2 separate regions of the Homo sapiens genome follow, and region 2 is linked to region 1. The links come from fine-mapping of genetic effects on gene expression. A gene starts in region 1. The other region holds a variant in brackets. All regions are shown on one strand. Distances are from middle to middle.

Evidence for each region. PIP is the estimated chance that this variant, and not a neighbour inherited with it, causes the effect. A credible set is the group of variants that fine-mapping cannot tell apart.
Region 2: its variant is the best candidate, but not a certain one, in a credible set for the expression of SPIDR in whole blood (INTERVAL, PIP 0.63).

The regions. Positions count from the first base shown.
Region 1 is chr8:47,259,299-47,262,206 of GRCh38, forward strand. SPIDR (scaffold protein involved in DNA repair) reads left to right here and starts at 1,640. Exons shown (of 20, transcript NM_001080394.4): 1 at 1,640-1,693. The coding sequence starts at 1,661. RefSeq lists a silencer at 1,354-1,903.
Region 2 is chr8:48,129,360-48,132,267 of GRCh38, forward strand. No RefSeq gene overlaps it. Among named protein-coding and RNA genes, the nearest start is that of UBE2V2, 120 kb to the left of the region's middle. RefSeq lists an enhancer at 1,063-1,647. The variant G/T (reference allele first, on the strand shown) is at 1,192.

The sequences.
Region 1 (2,908 bases):
TGTGTTGAGAATGGATTGTATGTGTGTGCTGTGTGAGGGGCAAGAGTGGATTAGGGGACATGGGTTAAGAGCTACTAGCAGTCTGGGCAAAAGATACTAGTGGCCTGGGAAACAGTGGTAGTGGAGAGTGGACACATTAGTAAGACACACAAACGTGTTCACAAAAATTCCTAGGTTTCTGCGTGAGCTGTGGCCAGGTGGATGTCCATGCCACTACTGAGATGGCGAATTCTGAACAGGAGGAAGTTTGGAGAAAAACCCCAACATTTCGGCAGGACAGCACCTCCTGGTGGAGATGACAAGCGGGAGCCTCACCACAGGCCTGGTTGTGGGAGTGAAAGGGGGACTCCGGGCGCGGTCGGGTGCACTTACTGTGCTAAGACAGCAAGGCCCGGCGGAGGTGGCAATGGCAGACCTGGTTTCTCGGCGGAGTCCCAGTGGGAGGCCCGGTGTCCAAAATCCTCAACTAGATTGGGCATGCCGTTTATCTTGTTCCAACTGTTGACAGTAATGGCACTAGCAATAATGTCCTTCCCAGGCAAAGATGGTTTTTCTTCCGTGTTTTCAGCCACTGCAGAGTGGACATCTACTATGAACCAAGTATCTGCGGCTTTAGGTACCAGATTCAAACACAGAATGGTGGCAGAACAGGGACTAGGACGGAGAGAAAACCTGAAGATGGATCAACCAGGAAGCAATGCATTCTCACAGAGGCACAAAAAAATGCCTCTGAAACAGAAGATTCACCTCCACTTCTGCGTCCTTTTGAGGCAACTTTCTGAGCATCCTTTCCTCCTCCCCAGGCCAACGCTTTTCCACCTTGTTAAACTACCCGGTAGCTTTCTCCATGGGAGGCGCCTTCTTCACAGTACTCGGACCCAGTTACACTTGTGGCCTTCCCCGGCTTCTGCTGGGCCGGCTATGGTCGACGCCGCACCGTCTCAGGCCCACTTCTCCTGCGGGAGCGGCGGCCCCAGCGGAGCCCCTGTGCGCCACGGCGAACGTGATAGGAATGCAATCTTCCGCCCCTTCAGACTCTGGCACCCCGTAGCCTTTCCTCAGGCTCCACGAGTTCTCCCGGTGATGTGATGACCGACATGGCGTCTGGGCTCTGAACACAGACTTTACTCCTTCCCCCCGGCCCCGAAACATGGGGAAACCACACCCTCTCTGCTCCAGTCACCAGCAGCCACTCCCATTCCTTAAGTATCCATTATTGCATGTGTAGCCTATTGCATGTGTAGCCTACTTCTGGTTTTCATTTTTATTTAAGGTCAGTTGTTGCCTGACAACACAGACGACAGTAACTTAATTCGAAAGACAATACTTGGAGGCGGCCCCCGCTCCAGGCACCAGCCCAGCAGCTCCCCCGAACTCCCCAGGAGCTCGCGGGCGAGCAACGCCACAGCCCAGAGCGAGCTCCGCGGAACCCCCAGCCCCGGGGAAGGAAGCTCGACTCTCCGCGGGGCACTCCTTCCGGGCTCCGGGCCCGACTAGGCCATCCGGGAGGCCCTGGAGCGCCGGGGCCGGAGAAGCCCTGCCCCCCGCCGAAGCCCCGCCCTGCGCCCGAGCGCCCGCCAATGGCAGGGCGCGGTGCGGCGCGCCGAGGTGGGACGGCGGCGCGCTGAGGAGGCGGTGCGCTCAGGCGGCGCTCCCGGAGATGCCCCGCGGCAGCCGCGCTCGGGGCTCTAAGGTAGGCTCTGGGGCGGGAGTGGGCGCCGCGCCGTTTCCCGCGTTGCGGGGAAGCGGCGGGCCGGCGCGGGGCTGGCCCCGTTGTGCTGGGGTGAGAGAGGGTGGGCGTTGGGGGTGAAGGGCTAGGTGGTGGCGGGTCCCGTCTGCGCGCGTGGAGCAAGCCCGCGCAGTGGGGTACCGCCCCCAGGTCCGGCTCCGGTCCAGGCGTGCGGGCCGGGCCCTCAGCGGCGGTACGGAAAGCGAGGGGTGGGACCGCCGAGGGACGCAGCGGGCGGGAGCATATGTCCGCCTCGGGGGTACTTGGCCTTACTCTTGTCTCTTTTTGATTCTGGTGTAATGTACCAAACCGCAGGGAATCCTGGCGTGGTTTTACCCGTCTCCGCGGATAATCCACTGTCAACTCTGTCTCTCTTCCTGCCGCACTCGGAGGGGACTGTGCGGCTGACTGCCCAATCCGTGGGCACCGCGCTGCCTCGGGTTCCAGAACGGGAGCGGGTGCCTAGGAATCGTTGCTTGAATGGTGTTTGATTGCACCTGTATCCGCGAGTGCATCCTTTTTTGTTCTGCTAATTGTGCTTGTCATGGCATGTGTCCTTTATCGTTTTAAAGTTTCTTCTAACTTCCTTGCTTTCAAATACGTTTGTCTCATAGTAAAACGGTTTTTAAAAAGCAAACACAGGACCTCCTTTCTTGACTCTTGCCTTTACTTGAAAACTTCCTGGAAAAAATAGACCACATATACTGGTTCAACTTCTTTACCACTACCATGCTTTCTCGCTTCTCAAATACCATTGATTATCAGCCCACACTATCAGTTTTGTGACTGGCTTTAGGGAATAAAGAAATTCATTTCAGGCACCTCTTGATTATAAGATACAGTCTGATTTCTGAAGCATTAATGTGTGAAAAAAATCAAGGAAATATATAAATTTGCTAAATCCAGTGTAAGTTGTTTACTTGATCATTGGAGCGTTTGACACATTCACCACCTGCTTTTATTTCTTTTGGAACATCCATGATTGTTTTCCTGTCTTGCAACAGCTCATTTTCTTCTCTTTACTGTGTTCGTGCCATGTTCTAATTTTTGACCTTGTGCTTTTTCACATGTTCCATATTTGCTTTGGACAATGTCATACATTGAAGTTAACTATATAGATGACTTTCAGATCTATATTAGATCTTTCCCTAGAGCTCAAACTTAGTGCATCACATAATC
Region 2 (2,908 bases), 870 kb after region 1:
ACCCCTCCTTCCTGCTTTCTTTTGGTTACTGGACTTTATTGACCTAAATAATGAAAAAAGTGGCTCAAAAACGTAATGGATGTTTGAACACTGAAGACTTCTGCCTCAAGTCTTTGGAAGCCTCCTTGGTATCTTGTGTGGTATCAGCTTTGAGGACACGGGGTAGAAACAGATGCAGCTGTTTGTTACAAGCCTTTCCTTTTACAGATTTATGGGTGAATATATATATATATATATTTGAGATGGAGTCTCGCTCTGTCGCCAGGCTGGAGTGCAATGGCGCGATCTCGGCTCACTGCAACCTCCACCTCCAAGGTTCAAGCGATTCTCCTGCCTCAGCCTCTCGAGTAGCTGGGACTACAGGTGCATGCCACCACACCCAGCTAATTTTTGTATTTTTAGTAGAGACGGGGTTTCACCATGTTGGCCAGGATAGTCTCTGTCGCTTGACCTTGTGATTCACCCATCTCGGCGTCCCAAAGTGCTGGGATTACAGGTGTGAGCCACCCTGCCCTGCCTATGGGTGAATATTTTTAGGAGAAAAGCACTAAACCTCTCTGATGCATTTGTATAAACTGGATTTGCCTTGTTCCATTTCCCTTTTGCCAACATGATTGTTTTTTCTTTTTAGGGAGAGGTAGAGAAGAAAGAAGAAGCGCTTGTGGGCATCTGAAGTCTGATTAGGCTCCTTGGAGTTGCAAGGAAGCAGCAGCGGCCCAGGCCCCAAAGGCACAGAGAGCTCAAGGCGGAGGAGTTAGCTGGACGCTGTCAAGCTGAGAGCTTCAACTGGGGAGCTTTGAAGATTTGAACAAGACATGAAGAATGTTTTATAGCCTGTGCTTTAGAAGCGCCTATGCTGTGATTTTCCACCACACCAGAAAGGCGCCCAGTGGTTACTTTTCCAAAAGGTCAGAGGGCAAATGGACCGTTCCCCTTAATTCGGCGGGAAAATGCTGCTTGATAAGACACCATAATTCTTGTGCTCACACAGAGGCGATAAGCGGAGATCTGGCGAGGACTGCCTCTTCAGGTGGGCTTCTCTGAGATAACAGAGAAATTTTCCTGCTGTAGTGAATTTTCCTGCTGTAGCTTCTTGGCACCAGGGACATTAATGAGTCACAGGGTGTCTAGGACCCACAAGTACGGGTGATTCCAGGTGACCTCCGCGCAGTGATCCTGGTTTAGGGAGGG[G/T]ACTGGCAGGACACCGGGCAGCTGAGCGCCCACAGTGGAGGAGGCGGCCCCAGCAGTGGCCAGAAACAAGTTCCCTGAGTTGAAATGGCAGGACTTGGGCTTGAGGTGAGATGGAGGTCAGGAACTAATTGCAGGGTCTCTTCACCATCCCTGGCCTTGTCATTGCCAGCCCTTCCCGATGGCACCCCCTTTCCTCCTCCTCCTTGACATCCCTGAAAATGTTCACTGGGAGCAAATGAAAAAGCTTACGGTGGATGCTGAATATGAGGGTGTCAGCAGCTGCGTCAGGATGTGGCCTGAAGGAGGAGCATTTGGGAGGAGAGGGAGAGAGGCCGTGGAGTGGAGATTCAGAATAGCCTTGCTTCCCCCTTACCCCCAACACACAGTAGGACCTGGCTGGCTAGCAGAGGAAAGCACGCTGGGCCGAGGCCAACGGCAGAATGCGGACCGTGGTGGAGGGTGGCGGCCAGGGGTTGTCCCGCTTCTCCCCCTACTGCTCCTTCCCTGCCCGCCTCTCCCAGTGATGAGCGGCCCAGTCGTGCTCCTTTACTCCCGTGCTCCCACACTTAGGAAATGATAGTGTGTGTTTGGTCCACGGGGCGGGCGTCCCCGGGGGTCGGAAGCAGCTGCCTGAGCGCGGGCCTTGGGAATGGCAGGGAGGTGGCACCCTCCTTCCCCTCCATCAGTTTCAGTGAGAATCAAGTGGTTCCCACGGAGCCTCTCGGTTTCCTTTTATTTTTGTAATTTTGAAAATATGCATAACATGCACTTAACTATGTGTGTAATGCCCGTAGACTCAATTTCCAGTTTAAGTAAAAGGCCACCATCCTGTTTGAGGTCTCTAGGTCCCTCCGGAGCCATCCCTTTCTTCTGTCCCCTCCAAGTACTGTATCCTAAATTTTGTGTTTATCCCTCCCTTGATTTTCTTCACAGTTCTTCCACACGTTTGTTATTTTAAACAACAGCTAGTTTGGTTTTTCTGATTTTTGAGTTTAAAATAAACAGAATCATACTTTATATATTATTCTGTGATTTCTAGTTTCATTCAGTTCTGTGTGTCTCTGAGATTTATCCATGTTTTTTGTGTAACTGTGATTTATCTACTTTCCCTGCCATCTGGATTTTAGTTGAAGGAGTATACCATCCTTTTGTTATGGACATTGGATTGGCGTCTGGCTTTCTGCTACTGCAGAAAGAGCCACTGTGCCCACTCTCTTCCATCTCTTCCTGCACAGACACAGCAGGTCTCCAAGGCCCTTTTTTCCCCAGAGGTTGAGTTGAGGGGTCATAGAGCACATGCCTTCTTCACATTTTCTAGATTCTGCTCGGTTGGTTTCCAAATGGTTTTTTTTTTTTTTTTTCCAAATGGGTTGTAACAATTACTTTCCACTGGGCATGTGCACAGAGTTCCACATCCTTCCCCTTCCCAAGCGCTGGTATTGTCAACGTTAAAATCTTTGCCAGTCTGCTGGGTATGAAATGGTTTCTTGTTGTGGCTGCTAATGAGCTTGTGCGTTTTCATGTACTTAGAGCCGTTTTTTATTTCTCTCTGTGAAGTGTTTTCAAGCCTTTCCCCATTTCATCTCAGAGTTGTTTACTGATACAGTTCTTTATATATATGTTATAGACAATAATCCTTTGTCAGTTACAGATGTGGCAAATATTTTCTCCCAGAGAATTTTTTTTCATTCCCTTTATAAGGTCTTTTTAGAACAGA